Linked DNA regions of Homo sapiens: all the other regions are reported to be linked to region 3. The links are microRNA targets in miRTarBase. Many come from high-throughput screens and were not tested one by one. Region 3 holds a microRNA gene; each other region holds the end of a gene's coding sequence.
The links. Region 3 holds the annotated microRNA hsa-miR-6074 (GAUAUUCAGAGGCUAGGUGG, at 1,701-1,720, shown strand). A microRNA usually pairs through its seed, bases 2 to 8, with sites in the 3' UTR of a target mRNA and lowers its output. Matches are read on the target gene's strand: a 7mer-m8 pairs with bases 2 to 8, a 7mer-A1 pairs with bases 2 to 7 and ends in A, and an 8mer does both.

Region 1 (3,106 bases), not on the chromosome of region 3:
AAATATTTGAGGCATTTAGCCATACACACACTAGAACTTTTTAAAACTTTGTCCTATAGTGTAATTATAAACTGATGACTATTATCTTCATACATTGAGTCTTCATGCATCAATGAAATGAAAAATATAGGATTATTTATTTACTTTTTGTAACTAAGTGGGAAATAAGAAAAAAAGTTAGAAAGTACTTAAGGGGAAAATCGTTCTTACTAAGTCATGTATTTTCAACTTGTCTTCCCTGGTATATCATAAATACCGACATATTACATACCCCATGTAAAATTTTGCTTAAACTCTCTAGCACTTGGCATGTAGAATATGTACCATAGGTATCAGGTTAAAACACTAAAGTCTGCCAGAAACTTTTGACAGTAGCAAGAAAATTGTTGAAGAAAAAATAAATTATTTACTGAGGGTAGTTATGTTAAAGTTTTGCGAACTTAAAGGGCTGACTTTAGTTCCTTCATGGTAATGGCTTGAGTAACATCATCTTTGGGATTTTTTAAATACTGGTCCAGTCTAGGAGAACCTGGAAGATGACCAGAGGTATTTCAGTTTCCCTAGGGAGAGCTTCGTTATCCATGTGGATGATAAGTCTGCTTGATTTATTATTAAATCATTATAGCAGTGAAGTGGTGCCATTTTCTCTCTCTTAAGCCCCATTTGAAAGGCTAGAGAAGGGGATATATATACTATGTTCAAGGTTTGTAAGGTTGTTAATGTACATAATTGCAGATTGCAATAAAAGCTTAGATACATTTTGTAAACCCAACCCACTAAATGAGCAGGTTACAAGACAAATGTCACCAGCCTCAAGTATTTTATGAACTATTTACTGAGGGTAGTTATGTTAAATAGATTATAATGTGGTAAATTATTTCCTGAATCCTTTATCACAGGAAAAACACAGACCCTCATAAAAGGGATAATTAAAACGGATGTGTCTGAACATTTAGTGAAGATGAGACTTAAAACATGAAAGTGTATTTGTGTATTTTGAGGGTTTTAGAAACCGGTTGCCTTAGAGGTTAGACTTTTGAAGAAAAAAAAAAAAAGATACAGATCTTTTCCCCTGGCCAAAGGGAAGTTGTATTAGTCTGTGACATCTTGTGATGCTGTTTATCTTGGTTTGACATTGGAGATACGCTAGTAACTGTGATACCATACTATAAAACAGAAGAATTTTCTGCTACTAAAAACTGCCTTTTTACAAAATGACTGTAAATATTTGTAAAATAAAATAACACTAAACTTTAAGCCCAAAAGGAGAGATAGAGCCATGTGTTCAGTTGTGGACCTGTCCGTGGGGCACAGTGCCACCCCATCACAGTGTTGCTGTCATCAGGCAAAAGTGAATGTTTGTTTATGGCAAATTCGTCTTTTGCGAATGGCTTAATTCTGACACTACCTTTCTGGGAAATGTTAATAAATTTTTAATATTCACTTCTATGTGTCTTGATTTGTTTGCTCTTTGTGTGTGGAGTTAATTTGGCCTTGCAGACATAAATGCTTTAATAAAGCGGCTTTGGAGACAACGGCAGGGCTTTTCCATTTCAGCAGGCAGGCACGGAGGTATCTTTATTGCCATGTCTAATGTGGCCTGGGGAAGAGCACTCAAGATGGAGACAAGGCGTGGGTTTGGGCCCAGCTCCCAACTTGGATGTGTGACTTTAAACCAATCAGATAACCTCCAAACACATTTTCTGAGATTTTTAAATGACTGCAAATTGTTGAAGACACAGAATGAATGATTGTGAAAACCATTTTGTAAGCTCTGAAGTACTAAGACAATTTGTGAGCCCTACAGAGAACACAGGATTAACAGTTAAGGTGTTACAGCTTTGGGCCAAGTGTGAGTTAGAGCTCTCTGGCTAAGAGAATAGAAATTGGTTTGCCCACCTCCCACCCCTTCACCTCTAGAAGAGGAGGGCTTAAGAATGGGAGGTGTGATGCCGAGGGGTAGGAATCTAACCAGAACCCAGCAGAGCCGTCAGGATCCTGGTCCCACGGGTAAAATGAGTACATCATGGAGAGGACCACAGCAGAACTTTTTTTTTTTTGGTTGTATATATATATATATATATTTTTTTTTTTTTTTTTTTTTTTTTTTTTTGAGGCGGACTCTTGCTCTTGTCACCCAGGCTGGAGTGCAGTGGCGGGAACTTGGCTCACGATCTTGGCTCACTACAACCTCTGCCTCCTGGGTTCATGCCACTCTCCTGCCTCAGCCTCCCGAGTAGCTGGGACTACAGGCGCCCGCCACCACACCTGGCTAATTTTTGGTATTTTTAGTAGAGACGGGGTTTCACCGTGTTAGACAGGATGGTCTTGATCTCCTGACCTCATGATCCGCCTGCCTCAGCCTCCCAAAGTGGTGGGATTACAGGTGTGAGCCACTGCGCCTGGTCTGGTTGTATAGATTCTGTAGCCACTCACTATGAAGAAATCGTTTATGATACTATGCAGACTATGAAGAACACAACAGACTTTAGATTTGAATAATTTATTCTAACAAAAGTATAAAGTATGGAAAATTAGTGTATTTGAATCATTTCAGAGAGTAGAGCAAGTTTCACACTAGCAGATTTCAGATTTTAGCACCTTTGAAATGAAATATTCAGAGTTAAGACAAGTGGCAACGCAGGCTGCAGGTGACCTACAGGGATACTCATCTGACTTCGGTGCCATTCACATCACAGTGCGGTCATTTGGTTTTTTCCTCTACATTGTGAAAGTGCCACAAAACAAAGAGAATGAGAAAAGAGTTCACTGAATTCATGGCTGGTGGTTAGAGGATGAACTAGAGACAAAAGGAGAAAGGCCATAGGCTGGACTGCAGGTCAAATAGACAGTCCGAAGGCACTGACGATGCAGTACATGGTCTTATTCTCCCATCGCACAGTGCAGCTCCCTGCGGGAGGGAAGAGAGCAGCATTTACGGCAGGGAAAGCTGGGGGACGACGTTTTACTCACAATAAGGCCAACATTCAAGTACCCATCTCTATGCTACACAAAGAACCTTGGCAAGTCTATTATTAAATGTTTTAAAAGGTGATAAACATGCATTGCATTCAAAGATAGGAAACTTCCAGTCATATATTTCACA
Region 2 (3,106 bases), not on the chromosome of region 3:
TCAAAACTACCATGAGATATCCCACTCCAGTTAAAATAGCTTTTATTCAAAAGACAGGCAATATCAAATGTTGGTGAGGATGTGGAAGGAGTGAAGGAGGGAATCCTCGCACATTGTTGGTGGGAATGTAAATTAGTAGAACCACTGCGGAGAACAGTATGGAGGTTCCTCAAAAAATTAAAACTATATCAAAGTGATATCTGCACCCTCCCCTGCAATGTTTATTGCAGCACTATTCACAATAACCAAAATTTGGAAGCAACCTAAGTATGCATCAACAGGTGAATGGATACAGGAAATGGACATATACACAATGGAGTACTATTCAGCCACAAAAAGAATGAGATTTTGTTATTTGCAACAATATGGATGGAATTGGAAGGACATTACATTCAGTGAAATAAGTCAGGCACAGAAAGACAAACTTCACATCTTCTCACTTATTTGTAGGAGCTAAAAATTAAAACAATTGAATGCATGGAGACAGAGAGCAGAATGTTGGTTACCAGAGGGAGGGAAAGTTAAGGTTGGTGGTGAGGGAAGTGGGGATGGTTAGTGGGTACAAAACTATGCTTAGATAGAATGAATAAGATCTGGTATTTGATAGCACAACAGAGTTACAGTCAATAATAATTTATTGTACATTTGAAATAACTAAACGAGTACGGATTGTTTCTAACACACACAAAAATCTGATAAATGCTTGTGGTAACAGATACCCCATTTACCCTGATATGATTATTATGCATTGTATGCCTGTATCAACATATATACTCCATATGTGTACCCATAAAAATTAGGATTTTTTTTTTTTAGGCTGAGTGCAGTGGCTCATGCCTGTAATCCCAGCACTTTGGGAGGCTGAGGTGGGCAGATTACTTGAGTGCAGTAGTTCGAGACCAGCCTGGGCAACATGGAGGAACCTCATCTCTATAAAAAAATACAAAACTTAACCAGAGGCTGTGGTGCACGCCTGTAGTCTCAGCTGCTCAAGAGGCTGAGGTGGAAGGATGGTTTGAGCCCAGGAGGCCACCACATCCAGCTAGTTGTATTTTTAGTAAAGACAGACTTTCACCATGTTGGCCAGGCTGGTCTTGAACTCCTGGCCTCAAGTAAACTGCCCACCTCAGCCTCCCAAAGTGCTGGAATTACAGGCATGACACTGCACCCAGCCCTTTGCCCATTTTTTTAATTGAGTGGTTTCTGTTATTGAGTTGTAAGAATTCTTTATATAATCTGGATAGTAGAACTCATGCTGTATGGTCTTTTCATGTTCATGACAATGTCCATGTATGCACAGCATTTTTTAAAACCTAGGTCCCATTTAGGTATTTATATTTGCTTTTGCTTATGTTGTTTCATTGAAGAATCCATTCCAAATAAAGTCAGGAAGATTTACTTCTATGTTTTCTTCTAATACTTTTATAGTTTAGCTGTTACATTAGGTCACTGATGAATTTTGAGTTAACTTTTAAGTGTAGGGTGAGGTACAATCTAACTTCATTATGTTGTGTGTCTGTGTATAGGTGTCCCAGCAGTATTGGTCGAAGAGACTATTCTGTCTCCATAAAGTAATCTTGGATCCTTCTTGAAAATCAAGTGGCCTTAGATGTATGGGTTTCTTTATGGACTCTCACTTCTATTCCATTTGTATATATATCTGCCTCCTGGGTTGAAGCGATCCTCCCACTTCAGCCTCTCCAGTAGTCTCCAGCTGGGACTACAGACATACACCAACACAACTGGCTAATTATTGTATTTCTTGTAGAGATGGGGTTTCTGATGTTCACTGAGAAATCTAAAAATAATGCATACAATTATAAAATAGAAAAATACCAGCAAATATTCACTGCTGAAGAAAATAAGAATATAATTGTAACACACTATGTATGTACACTCAAAAAAAAAATTCCAGAAACACAGAGAGATGCTTGTCTAGAAACAAAGAAAGGTATTTATTTAATTTTTTTTTTTGGAGACAGGGTCTCACTCTGTTGCCCTGGCTGGAGTGCAGTAGCACTACCATAGGTCAGTGCAGCCTCAATCTTCCAGACTCAAGCAATGTAAGGATGCAGCAAAAATACAAAGACACATGTGGCTGACATTCTAGTGGTCATCAATTTTGACATGTTCATCATTAGTGTTTTGAAAGTGTGTGAACAAACTCTTATACTAAGACCTGTCTCCTGAATAATAACTAATTGTCAAACTTCTGTTAGAAACCCTGCAGCATTCTCTGCTCTGACAGTCCCACGACCACTGGGGTATGCTGAGCTATGGCTGAAACACTAACTTCAAACTGTCCTCAATCACATGGGGAAGCTTAAAAAGCTGATTTCTTAGAAGTAGTGAGAACAGTGGCTCTAGAGGCAGGGAAGGGTAAGGGATAGGTGGGATGGCCAAAGGTTGGCTAATGGATGCAAAAGTACAGGTAGATAAGAGGAAGAAGTTCTGCTGTTCTGCAGCACTAAAGGTGACTATCATCGACAACAATTTATTTTCAAACTGCTGGAACAATGAATTTTTAATTTTCTCAACACAAAAAAGAGATAATTGAGGTGATAAATGTGCTAATTACACTGATTTGATCATTATACATCATATACATATATTTAAATATCACACTGTACCCCATAAATATGTACAACACTTACGTGTCATTTAAAAATAATGATAAAATTATATCAAGATTCAAGCGCCTCTTGTAGCGCTTCCCACAGTCTTCACATTTGGATGGATTTTCTCCACTGTGGTTTTTTTGTTGGTCTTTACGGTATGACCGGTATACAAGCTTCTTTCCACAATCCTCACATTTGAATGGTTTTTTTCGGCAATGGAGTCTCTTATGATTCAAAATACTTGAGGCCTGTCTAAAGCTCTTCCCACAGTCATCACAGTTATAAGGTCTCTCTCCTGTGTGGGCTCTATGGTGCAAGTCAAGACCTGACTTAGTAATGTAGCTCTTCCCACACTTGTCACATTTGTATGGCTTTTCTCCAGTGTGGACTCGCTGATGGATCAAAAGATAGGAGGACCGTCTGAAGCTCTTCCCACATTCTTTACAATTATATGGTTTCTCTCCTGTGTGGATCGTCTGATGCTTACA
Region 3 (3,106 bases):
TATGTCAAATAAGGTATAATGTTATGTTCTCTCATAACTTCATAAATAAGAATGTATTGCTTTGAGAGATGGAATAAAATGACAAGTTTTATTTGGCATCTATATATTTAAGAGTTCATGAAGAGATTAATGGTTGTTGGCCGCTGGTCAAATTTCTTTGATGTACACTATTTTTTTCCACTAAAATTCTGCACTTGCCACTCCCTGGATGAGTTACCCACACATTTATGTACATAAATTATGGTGCATTTATTACATCATTTCCAACCTAGCTGGATAAAAGCACAGTGGGATTTTTTTCCCTGTGTGCAATTTCCATTTTGGTGGCATTTCTGCTTCCTAACAAATTCCAGACAGTCAAAGTAGACACCCAAATTCTGTTTTTATGTATTTCAGCTTTCTGTGTTCACCTACACTTTGTTTGGGAGATGTCCTACTGGGAAGTTACTTAGATTTATGAATATTTGATGAGCTTTTTGCAGAAATGGGGGTCTGGAGACTCATATAATCTCATTGTATGTAGTATACTTTTTCCTTTTTTACTCTGTACTTCAATTTTTGATAACTTGGATGTGGTATTTAATAACCTATTGACTTAATTTTATTATTTACTAATAGTTTCAACTTTGATCTCTTTCGGAAGGATGTTGTCGGAAGGATGTTGAAAAAAATCCAAAATGAGTTCTGGAGCAGATATAAAATGTATCTCCTCTATTCATATATCTATATATATACGTTGATCTTCAAAGATAGGCCAACTTTCTAACTTCTGTCACTTTATTAGCATGGAATGCAAAGGTGCTCAAATGCCCTCAAGTGGTCTCAGCCCACATTAACCTCTTTCTGTTACTTCTTTTCCTTATTTCTCTGCATACTGAACGCAGAATTTGGCTTTTTCTGCTGCTTAAAATTAACATCTAACGGAGGAGTGTCTACGTATTTTTGTCCTGGTGTTTCTCATATTTTAATACTAACACAGCGCTGAATAATGTTTGCTGTGCAAATAAAAATTTAAACAAATGCCAGACCGATAAGGTTAGTTTTTTGACTTTGCCTAAACAATAAACAAAACAAGAAACACATTAAAACCTAAACATGTAATCTCTCAAAGTAAAAAAATATTTTAAAGTTGTACTCAACATACCCACTTATGGGTTAAGGATATAGTAATATAAATTTTATTAGATTGAGGAAGAAATCACTCTACCCTCTGAAAAGATGTAGATAGTCATATAATTCAGGTAGTCAGTTTAATGGGCTAGGCTCCCGGGTTCATGCAAATTCACAGAGAAATCTCAGAGCATAAAAATTTTGGTCAATAGCTTTATTGTTATTATTGTTAGATGGAGTCTCGCTCTGTTGCCCAGGCTGGAGTGCGGTGGCGTGATCTCGGCTCACTGCAACCTCCGCCTCCCAGGTTCAAGTGATTCTCCTGCTTCAGTCTCCTGAGTAGCTGGGACTACAGGCACCCGCCACCATGCCCAGCTAGTTATTTTTTGTATTTTTAGTAGATACAGGGTTTTACCATATTGGCCAGGCTGGTCTCAAACTCCTGACCTCAGGTGATCTGCCCGCCTCAGCCTCCCAAAGTGCTGGGATTACAGGCATGAGCCACCATGCCCAGCCTGGTCAATAGTTTTAACTACCAACCCCATGGAATTTTTACTCACCTTCAGTCAACTGATTTGCTCTTTGGTGGAGATATTCAGAGGCTAGGTGGAGATAGAGGTAGCCTTGAGGGTGGGTGTGGAGAAAGAGCCCCTAAACCAACAGACAGGAAAATATCTGAAAAGTGACTACCATATATACAACACAGCCAATTCTGATACTAAACTTTCTACTCTAAGAAAATCACTTCCATTAAAAAACAAAAAAAAAAGCTAATAAACAAAGGAAAGCTACCCCAGCTCTTAGGATTAAGGAATAATTATTTGCAGATAGAGTTTTTGTTTATGCAAAGCTCCTTCTCAATCCTTCTCAATCTTTTTTTTAACTCAGTAATCTCGACTGCATTGAAAACTAGCTCACTTAAAAAATTGTTTTAGAACAAAGTTTTAGTAGATGTACTTTGTGTGTTTTATACAGTTTGTGCGATGCATATTGTAAAATGCTATAATTACATTTTGTAGTGACGTTTTTCCTTTCTACCATGTAAGAAATTCTGTTTTCTTATTCCCAAGGATAAAAATATGGTGGCTTTTTTTATTTGAACCAATCTGAACATTATGCTCAGAGCCAAGCAGAATAAGCAAAGCTTATTTACTGAAAGGAATATTAGGATAATGGGCAGTATTGAAAAGTTACTTAAAATTAACATCTAAAGGAGTAGTGTCTACGTATTTTTGTCCTGTCAGATTTTCTGCTATGTTAGCAAAGGCGGAAAAGTTTAGGTATAAATGAAGAGAAGGAGAAATAGTATATGAGGTTAAAGAAATGAATAATATCTTCAAATAAGGTCATATAAAAAAGTAATGAATAAATGGTATGTAATAAGAGAAATCCAATATTATATCAACACTTCCAAAGAGGCTCAGAGCAAGAGATGACATTGTCTTTCAGCTCAACTATGCCAGATGCCAGAAAGGGTAAAGCTCTATGTTTGCTGAGACTACTCTTGCTCTTGGACCCTGACAAGATTGAATGAGAAGGCTGCAAACCTGAGTGGCCTTGCTCTGAGAGACATATTCACATGACATAAGAGTGGACTGGACTAATTATTAAAGATTAAATGGGATTCCAATAATTTGCCAGTACCATTTGAGTTGTACATTTTTTTAATGTAAGGGATCTGTGTTGGAGGATAGGGAGTGAACTGTTATTTTATGGGATATATATTGGGTCCTTGTTTCCTGGCATTCAGCTTCTAAAGTCCTTGGAATCTCCAAAGTAATAAGTGTGTTTTTGAATGCTAATGAGATTACTGGTGACTGGCAACCTTTAGATGGCTTCAGGATGAGGGCTGGTCACAGGAAAGACCAAGGCAGGATTAGAGGGTTGGGACTTCAGCCCCACCCTTCAACCTCTGGGAAGGAGAGAGGGACTGAAAGTCAAGTTGATCACCAACAGCCAATTATTTAATCAATCATGCCTATGTAATGAAGCCACT
Region 4 (3,106 bases), not on the chromosome of region 3:
TTCAGTCTCAATGCACATCTGATACCTGCTGCCTTTGAGAAACAAGTTTTGTTGTGCTGATTTAACAGCCTGTGAATTCTGCAAACACGATCGTGAAAAAATGCCAATCTGTCCTGTGTAAGCCCTGTGTGAAGTTTTGACTTTAATCTACCAGATCACTCCTTCACCCTCCATAAAGATGTCTGAACCTGACACTTCCTCAGGATTTTCGGGAAGTGTGGAGAATGGAACTTTTCTTGAGCTGTTTCCCACATCCCTGTCCACGTCAGTGGACCCATCCTCAGGCCACCTGTCAAACGTCTACATCTATGTGTCCATATTCCTCAGCCTTTTAGCGTTTCTGCTTCTGCTTTTAATCATTGCCCTCCAGAGGCTCAAAAATATCATCTCCTCCAGTTCCTCCTACCCAGAGTATCCAAGCGACGCTGGAAGTTCTTTCACCAATTTGGAAGTCTGCAGCATTTCCTCTCAGAGGTCCACTTTTTCAAACCTTTCATCCTGAGGAAAATGGAAGAGTCCTTGAGTGTGGCAGCAGTTTTGACATCCCCTTACGGAAGTGTCCCGTGAGGCATTGCCTCATGAAAGAAATGATCCTTTTGGTGTAGACCTGCTTCTCCTTCTCCTTTTTCTCTGATTTCTTTTCTGTTCATGATGCTTTTCATTTGGGGATGGAGACACCGATGTTGGTGGAAATGTGTGCAAACCCCAAGGTGCAGAATTTCACACAAATGGCTTGATGAATCTAGACTGGGCTTCTTCAGGTAAGTCAGTTCATTCTACTTTGTTGGACGCCGTAGGCTCATCTGAGGTGGCCTCTCCGTGGATGCTGGACATGGACTCGCACTTCATTTCTTTTACAAAGCCGTGAAATCAACTGAGCCTGCAGAAACTGGCAAAATCAAGTCTGACCTATGTAGAAGTTATTTTCCATATTTAAAAGATAAAGTGGAGACACCAAACTTAAAAAGGAAGAGAGTCAATTTAGATTTAATGTATGACATTTCTAAAACTGAGGGTAAATATATGCTAAATATTTTCTTTAACTTCACTTTAACAAGTAAAAATCACACTTATTGATGAATGTAAGTCATTTGGGAAAGTTTTGGAAGAGTTTACATTTTAATAGCAAGACAAACATGTATTATGATGGAGCTTGTGATGTATTTCTGCCTCCTGGAGTTTTATTTTGTTTTTCTGCTTATGTTTTAGTCATAATGCCACAAAGTTGTGGAATTTTTGTGATTAATTGCTGTTACTAGTACTAAGAGAAGCACCAGAAGAGATGCCAAGAAGTTTTTATATGAATAATTTCTATCAGTGAGAATTAAGCATATGGAAAATATTCATTTAGTTGTATTTTATACAGTAATAACTCTTAGCTGTCGTGTAAGTTCCTTTATTCGGTTTCATAGTCTTTATAATTTTAGTGCAGAATTATATTAAGCCTCCAAGATGTCTGATATTTGTTCACTCACATTAGGTTGTAAAACTTAGAAACTAAATTGCAAATATATGTGTTATTATATACTCCACGAATGTTGCGTCTCTGATAATTAGTTGTTGTATGTTAACATAATACTCTACATTAGGATTTCAGGATGTGAGTTTGTATTAAAAATTGTAGGCACTCAAGTTGTGTAGCTGCTGGGAGCTTTAGGGATCCTAGGAGCTGCCGTGCTGCAGGCAGCAGAGTATGTCTGAACTCGGCGGGCGGGTGGCAGGGGCTGTCTGTGAAATTAGGCACACATGTGAGCTCAGACATGGAATGTGGAGGAACTCAAGCTGCCCCTAAAAACAAAACAATCAAACTGCAGCTCCTTAAGAGTAAGAATTTTAATTTAATTTTGAAAATAAATGGCCCACAGGGTAAACACTGAACTTATTCAACCTACAGGAGGCCACTGCATCAACACGCCACGGTCTTCCCATGGCAACTGAATCATTCCTTGTTCAAAACATTTAATCATCTTAAGCAGTGGGGCTTCAACACACCGTTTGGTTAGATTGTGCAGTCAGCACTCTCCAGTGATTAGAATGGGGGAAAGAATCCACTATTTGTACAGGGTTTATCTTTATCATACTAAAATGCTGAGTGAGTGGAGGTCTGGGAATGAAAATCAGAAGTCTTCTTCTTCTTTTAATTCATAAGCCTCACTTAAATCAGAACACATTTAACTATTTATATATCAAAAACGTCCCCAAACACCATAAGACCAGCACAGAGTTGCTGCCCTAAAATGTATAATTAGTGAAAAATTTACCTCTGCTTCCATTTAAAGCATGGCAGTGGGTTGGGTGTCATTATGTAGTATAAAAACTGGACTAGATAAACTGCTATTTTAGAGCATTATTAGCATTCTCTGAATATATGTATATATACATATATATACGCACACACACACACACACATAAATATATATATATATATATATATATAAACTCACATACTCCCAATTAAAAGTCGTGTGAAAGCTACACAGGATTACAGAGGCATCTATATTATCACTTTTGCTCTTTGACTAATCCTATGCTGTTTTTGTTATAGAGAGAAACAAGGACATGGATGAAGTGATTTTTTTTTAAATAAAAGGACAAATTTGCCACACAACAGAACAATCTGAGTATGATCTGTCCTCAGGGTATCTTTATATCCTTTCCATGTGAAAGAGATATAAAGAATTCTGACAGCAAAACTACTTTAAAAATCAAATCAAATCAAATCCACAAGCACACTCCCATTCCTCCCCTGCCGCAATGGTTCTTGCTCTCAATGTTTAGTAGAGAAATTAAGAGCCACATTCAAAGATGGAAAATAAGATTTGTCATTAGAAGCTTGCCAAGGTAACAGATTGTACAACTTGAGATGAATTCATGTTGTTTAAGAAGTTCAGAAAGGTTGGAAGATGGGTTTATAAATAAAGAAGTGGAGTCCATTGAAAGCCTGGTTCTTTGATTCTTTTCCAGTGAGGTGATTTATAATCTCTTCTAGAGAAGAAGCTTTTCCTAAGAGTTTTAAGCATACACCACACACACACAGAGACGTATAGACATATATTTACATATAAATATATCACTCCTTTTCTGTACGTTCTGTCTGAAGCAGGGT
Region 5 (3,085 bases), not on the chromosome of region 3:
TCAAGCCAGGCCCTTCTTTAGTGCCCTCCTCTGGGGTCTGTCTACTTTCCCACAAGAAAATACACCCCTCACAAAAAATTATTTTGAAAAACTCAAAGAAAGGAGGAGCTTATGGGAGAAACCCCAGGCAAGAAGGAAGAGCATGCTTTTTCAAACCATCTGACTCCGTCACAGAGGGTATGTACAAATGGGCAGCTCTTGGTGGGCCCAGATGTGATTGGGTTGATGGGCACAGAACTGTTAAGACTTTTTTGTGGTGAATGCCGTGGTCCTCGTCACCTCCTGCCCTGCATCCCGTGTGCTCACTGGTGACCTGAGGTTTTGTTCCTTCTCGCTTGCTCCACCCTTGACTCAGTGACTTCCCTGGACTCTCTGGGATTGGCAGCTGCCCTCCAGTCCCAGGCCCTGACCTCGTCTGCCCCTTTGACCTGTGAGTGTACAAATCTCTCTTTCCCTTTCAGTCTGGCAAACAGGGTTGGGATGTTTTCAAAAGGAATTTTACCAGGAAGCTAAAAAGAAACCAAAACAACCTCCTCCCCGCAACTGCCACAAAATCCAGATAAGGAAAAGCAAATACAGAGGAACAGATGTGTATGTGGAATACTGATTCTTCCTCCTGAGATCACAAAAATCTGGCCCAGACTGTCCTGATTAATGTGGTTCAGGAAGCCCCCAGTCCCCATGGTCCTGCCTCATTCAGCCTCTCAACTCCCAGTGGCCTCCAAGTAGAGCTGCTGGGTTTGAGGGATGAGCACCCCCTTTTAGGCTCTGCTTCCTGTGGCCCTGTCATGCTCTGTAGCATCCCCTCCACCAACTTGTGGATTCTGCCCCCGACCTTTCCCGCCAAGGGAGGAAGACGCAGGCCTGCCTACCCTCCAGTGCCTCCTGTGGCTCAGGCCCTGGAAGTCCTGCTTCGAGGTTCATCTCTCTGTTCTGTTTTTTTCTTTGAAGGGTGTTCCTAAGCCAACCGTGACAGGTGGTTCTACCTTTTCTGGAGTTCAGCTGCTTTGTCTATTTTAAGAAACCATCTGGGACTGCTGAAAGCAGTTTTCTCCTCAGGATGGGTGAAATCAAGGGGTTAATTTGATCAAGTCTGCCTGCCCTGCTTGCTTTTTGTTTTTTCCCTTTTTCCATGGAGCACAAAGCTTCTTTGGTAGCTGAAGGCCTCGCTGCTGAATGTGGAAACAACCTTCACTGGCTACTTTATAGGTAACATTCATAGGTCACTATGAGAATGGGCGCTACAGTCATTTTTCAGGAACTTGGGACAGCTCTTGTCCAGCTCAAACCAATCGAGACCACCGACTTTTCTACTGGGCCTCTGCAAGTGCTCGAGGGGTGGCCTTTTGACATCGGAGGGCCAAAAACTCCACCCTCAGATCATAACACAACCATTTTCTTTTCTTTTTTTTTTTTCTTTTTTTTTTTTTGAGACCGAGTCTCTCTCTCTCACCCAGGCTGGAGTGCAGTGGGCGATCTCGGCTCACTGCAAGCTCCGCCTCCCGGGTTCACACCATTCTCCTGCCTCAGCTTCCTGAGTAGCTGGGACTACAGGCTCCCGCCACCACGCCTGGCTAATTTTTTGTATTTTTTTTTTTTTTTTAGTAGAGACGGGGTTTCACCATGTTAGCCAGGATGGTCTCGATCTCCTGACCTCATGATCTGCCTACCTCCGCCTCCCAAAGTGCTGGGATTACAGGCGTGAGCCACCGTGCCCAGCCAGCAAAACAATTTTCTACACAAATGTCCTTATGAAATGCCATGAACCCCAAGTACACTTGGGCAGAATGAACCTATTACTTCATTTTCCCCACAGCCAATCACCCTTCCCCATGCCTTAGACCATCCCACTTCCCTCAGCCATAAATATCCCTAAGGCTTATCTTGAGGAGGTGGATTTAATATAAGTTGCCAGGACCAGCAGACCCTGAAACTCCCCACCCCTGCCCTTCCTATATTCTGCTTAAAATTTGGTGGATGAACCTCATTCTCCCTTTAATTGCAGAACAGAAATGTGTGACACTCCCTGAGTGTCAATGAATGCCTGATCCCTGCCTAACTCAGGAAATTCTTGCCATCTCTCCAGGTGCTCCCCTAAAAATGGTGCTCCGGGGAATGATCTCACAGAACTCAAGTCTTTACCATTTTATGGTATCAAATTTCTTAAGCTCATAGTGACAACAGTACGAGGATGGTGCTTTTGACCTACGGTCTCATACCTCCCTTCCTTCAGCATCCTCGCTAGACCCAGCCTTGAACCCTTTGTTTGGCATGAGGTAGGGCCTCAGTGCCTCAGTGGCATTCATAATTATTTTCTTTCCATGGTGAGGTTGGGAGAGAGTTGAGCTCTTCTCTAGAGGAGGGGCCCAGGTAAGGCTGAGAGGGGGCTCCGAGAAGCTCCTTCCTCCACAGCCCTCTCCCAGCAGCCACTGCTGTCCTCCACAAAGGCACCTCTGGCTCCTCCACTTCCTGTGATCCAAATGGTGGGGGAAGAGCAGCAGGCAGGGCTGCTCCTCAGGCCAAAACAACCTGGTGGTGGGAGTGGATGGCACAGAGGAGAAAGCAGTGGCTAGGAGTCAGGTGGAGATGATGTTTTGCTCCCTGAGGGCTCCAGGTCAGCTTTGCTCTAATTTTGTTTTCATTTGTTTTCACAATCGTGGAGGGAGAACTCTCTGGAGGCTTGGGAAGGTGGACCCCAGCTGCAGAGAAACACAGGCCAAGACCCACACACCACAGCCCAGGTCTTGTGGGTGGACAGGAGAAGTGGTTCTGATTCCCGTCTGGGAAGTCTCAGGGACACGGTTCAGGAGTAATCTACAGGAGAAGCTGAAGGACAGTGGAGTTATCTCCCTTGCTCCTTATCTCCCTTCCCCAGTGCCAGGCTTCCTCCTGGCTTCTTCCCAGAGGCCCTCTGGTCAAGATGAACACATTAGCCAGGAAGACAGACACTCACCACCAGCCTTGGGCATACGACAGTGGAGCTGACTTCTCTGGGAAGAGATCTGAGAGTCAGGGGGCCAGGGAGGCATCCCCCTTCCCAGCCGCTGGGTGTGGCTGACCTCCATGTCTTCCAACCAGTCTGGCC
Region 6 (3,106 bases), not on the chromosome of region 3:
AGACAATATCGTAACAGTAGAAAGCAAGAGTGCTGTGGCTAGCAGGGGCTGGAGGGAGGAGAAAAAGGGCAGTCACATAATGGGCATATAGAGTTCAGTTCTGCAAGATGAGAAAATTCTGGAGATCTGTTTTACAACTTTGTAAATATTTTTAACACTGCTGAACTGTACACTTCAAAATGCCTAAGATGGTAAATTATGTGATGTTGTTTTTAACCACATACACGCAAAAACTATTTGCATCATTTTGGGTACAGATCCTTGATGGAAATACTGGATACAAGTGACTATGGTGTGCATGTAGCATCTGCCCTTTATAATGTAACTTCCTTTTAAACCACACACACAAGAAAATCTCACAAACTCAGCCTTTATTAAATATATTAAGTACTGAGCATCCTAAATTATAGCTTATTAGAGGAACGACCAAGGGTTCAGACAGAAAACAGACTATTCTGTTTCATATTTTATCTTTGTGATTATTTGGCTTATGTCTGCCTTCTCCATTAAGCAGACAGTGAGGTCCAGGGTCTGATTTTGTTCACCATTACATTTCCAGGGCCTAGCACAGTGCCTGGAAAATAGCACATAAACGTTTACTGGATGAGTCAATATAGTATTAGACACTTGGAGGCGTAGTACTACCCAAGTCTATAATCACCAAATTCAGGTGCAATAAGAGATATACCATAAAGGAGGCAGAATCAACTTTCAAAAAACTAATTTTAATCAAAACAAAAATTGTTGATCATTAACAAGTTTATAAAACAGTGATTTAGTTACATAAATAAATTGATATCAGTGTATCAAATCTTAATTACTTTCAACTTCATGAGCATGTTTACATGGGTGATGAATTACAACCTTTTTTTTTCTTTTTACCTATTATAATAAATAAAATGGAGCGCATGAAATAGTTCTTCTAAACAAAAATACCTACAAACATACCTCTAAGCATGTTCTCTAGTGAAGGGAACAAGAGACACTGGACAACTTTTGCACCAAAACATAAAAATTGCTTTAAAAAGCACAAGGTTACAGAACCATCAGCTAAAGTAAAGACACTATACTGTAACCAAAGTTGGTATTTAATAATATAATGAACAGTTTGGTAGTTAGATCTCCAGTTTGGTTATTTTAAAGCATTAAGACAAGGCAAGATAGAAGGCTGCTTTTGTTTGAGTAATTTCTAGAGAAAATAAAATATATTAAAAAAAAAGAAAACTGAAAAGTAGAACAGTCATACCTACACAACTTTCTGTCCTGCACAAAGTCAAAATACCTATGCAGAATAGATATATAATATATATAATGTTATTTGTGCACAAAGGTTAGCTTATTATTAGCTCACTGCAAAGGCGTAATGTATCATTATGTCAATTGTTTTGGAAAACATTTTGTGTTTTGTGTCAAAAGGATATTTCTTTTAAGTTTCCTAGGCTAGGAGGCACGAACCCCAATTCCGGCATATTGTATATTCTTAATGCTAAGGCTTGCTGCTCTGGCTGTGTATTTTGTTGTCCCTCTTTATTCTAGTGCCTGTTATAAGCATGTGTGGTGTAGTGGTGGTTGTTGGTGGTGTGTGTGTGTGTCTGTGTGTATACATATATATATGTATACATAAGTTGTATAAATATATATACATATATAATTTCTCCCAATAGATCTCAGTCCAACCATGCAATCCAAAAGGTGGCTCTGCATAGATGCCCAGCATGAAGTTCACCACCTGAGCCAACCCTGAAGCAAGGCGTACTTTTAGTCCTTCTGATAGGTTTTCTCTCAGTTTTTTTTTTGTTTTTGTTTAAAACCAAGCTACTGCAGCTTCAAGTATTTTGCATTACATAGAATATTTTTTATAAATTAGTTAATGTTATATTTTCAATATTCAGACATATACTATAATATATATACAGTACAATAAATGCTCTCATTCTTTTTTTAATTTTTTTGGATAAATCCCTGAGAATGTATGTTGACAGTCGCTAAGTTTCCACATGCACAAGCATCGTGTGCCATGCTTCTGGACGAACAGCACTGCAAAGCCACATGGGTCAGCCTTTTTACTATTAGTATTTCATTTTGTTGGTTTGTTTAAATATGCTGAAAATGTAAAGATGAGTTACAAAGGAGTAAAGCTGAATCCATTCGAGGTACTTATCACAGGATGGAGGTGTTTTGTTTGGTTTTTAAAGCCATTTCAATTATTTTTTTTGAGGCTGTGAACGTATACAGAAAACAGGAGAGCTATGTGGACTTTTGCCACTTGACAACATATACTCAGTGTAAACCAAACCTTTTTAACCTCTCTCTCATACAAAACCAGAAAAAAAAAATTAAAAAAAATAATAAAATAAAGGAAAGAAAGAAATAGGGAAAAAATAAAAAACACACAAACTTTCACAACATGACAATTTAGTCTGCAAACGCAATATAACTATACACATATAATACCGGTGTGGCTCTGTTCTTTAAGTTAAAAAGGGTACAAAGGCAGGCTCAAGTAAAAACAAACCATCCCTCCCATCCCCACCCCCCACCCCATTCATACAAGATCTATCAACCAAACCTCTCCCGAACCAACATCATCAGTTTCTTTTTGCCTTTGTAGATTTGTTTCAGGTTGTCAATAAACTGTGTAAACTGAATGTGTCCATCATGCGCCATTAAGAAGGTCTCTCGGGCTTTGCTGAGGAACTCTATAAACTCACTATAGTGCCGAGGACTGATGTGTGTGAGCCGTGAGTGCGTTGTGTTGATGTAGGCCCCGATCGTGGCATCCAAGAGTTGCCTCAAGGGGGCTTTGTCCAGTGACATGAGCTTACCAGAGTTCCTCCTCCCATGAAGTCCCACCATGCCAGGAGTGGTCAGAGTGCATCTGCGCAAAATGTCTGACAGTACCGTTGCACACTTGACACTCTTGACCACCAGAGGTATTATAGCTGCAAGCTCATTTTTACCAAGGGAGTGGCTAAGCGCACAGGCCCACAAAACATCATTAATGGCAGGGTGTGTGTCCTGATTGTAGCTCAGGTTGAGATGGGTCATGGCCAGGGTGGCCAGCTTGTAGGCCCTCATGGGGTACCCGCGGTGCTCCATGTACCGT

Region 1: miRTarBase lists DYNLT1 as a target of hsa-miR-6074. Seed matches in the 3' UTR shown: 7mer-m8 at 2,614-2,620.
Region 2: miRTarBase lists ZNF223 as a target of hsa-miR-6074. The part of its 3' UTR that is shown has no 7-base or 8-base seed match.
Region 4: miRTarBase lists SERTM1 as a target of hsa-miR-6074. Seed matches in the 3' UTR shown: 8mer at 2,362-2,369.
Region 5: miRTarBase lists ROBO4 as a target of hsa-miR-6074. Seed matches in the 3' UTR shown: 7mer-A1 at 1,954-1,960.
Region 6: miRTarBase lists ZSWIM6 as a target of hsa-miR-6074. Seed matches in the 3' UTR shown: 7mer-m8 at 1,885-1,891 and 7mer-A1 at 1,474-1,480.

The regions. Positions count from the first base shown.
Region 1 is chr6:158,633,987-158,637,092 of GRCh38, forward strand. DYNLT1 (dynein light chain Tctex-type 1) reads right to left here. Exons shown (of 5, transcript NM_006519.4): 5 at 2,488-2,911. The coding sequence ends at 2,841. It overlaps TMEM181 (transmembrane protein 181), which reads left to right. Exons shown (of 17, transcript NM_001376852.1): 17 at 1-1,443. Among named protein-coding and RNA genes, the nearest start is that of DYNLT1, 9.2 kb to the right of the region's middle.
Region 2 is chr19:44,066,822-44,069,927 of GRCh38, reverse strand. It overlaps ZNF223 (zinc finger protein 223), which reads right to left. Exons shown (of 5, transcript NM_013361.6): 5 at 1,929-3,106. The coding sequence ends at 2,651. Among named protein-coding and RNA genes, the nearest start is that of ZNF284, 3.8 kb to the left of the region's middle.
Region 3 is chr12:66,022,264-66,025,369 of GRCh38, reverse strand. It overlaps MIR6074 (microRNA 6074), which reads left to right and starts at 1,644; the gene lies at 1,644-1,750.
Region 4 is chr13:36,694,901-36,698,006 of GRCh38, forward strand. SERTM1 (serine rich and transmembrane domain containing 1) reads left to right here. Exons shown (of 2, transcript NM_203451.3): 2 at 6-2,939. The coding sequence starts at 179. The coding sequence ends at 502. All of the region lies in intron 6 of LOC102723490 (a long non-coding RNA gene), which reads right to left. Among named protein-coding and RNA genes, the nearest start is that of SERTM1, 22 kb to the left of the region's middle.
Region 5 is chr11:124,882,088-124,885,172 of GRCh38, forward strand. ROBO4 (roundabout guidance receptor 4) reads right to left here. Exons shown (of 18, transcript NM_019055.6): 17 at 2,954-3,085; 18 at 1,604-2,826. The coding sequence ends at 2,804. Among named protein-coding and RNA genes, the nearest start is that of ROBO4, 14 kb to the right of the region's middle. RefSeq lists a silencer at 686-980.
Region 6 is chr5:61,543,771-61,546,876 of GRCh38, reverse strand. ZSWIM6 (zinc finger SWIM-type containing 6) reads right to left here. Exons shown (of 14, transcript NM_020928.2): 14 at 705-3,106. The coding sequence ends at 2,560. Among named protein-coding and RNA genes, the nearest start is that of LINC03122, 92 kb to the left of the region's middle.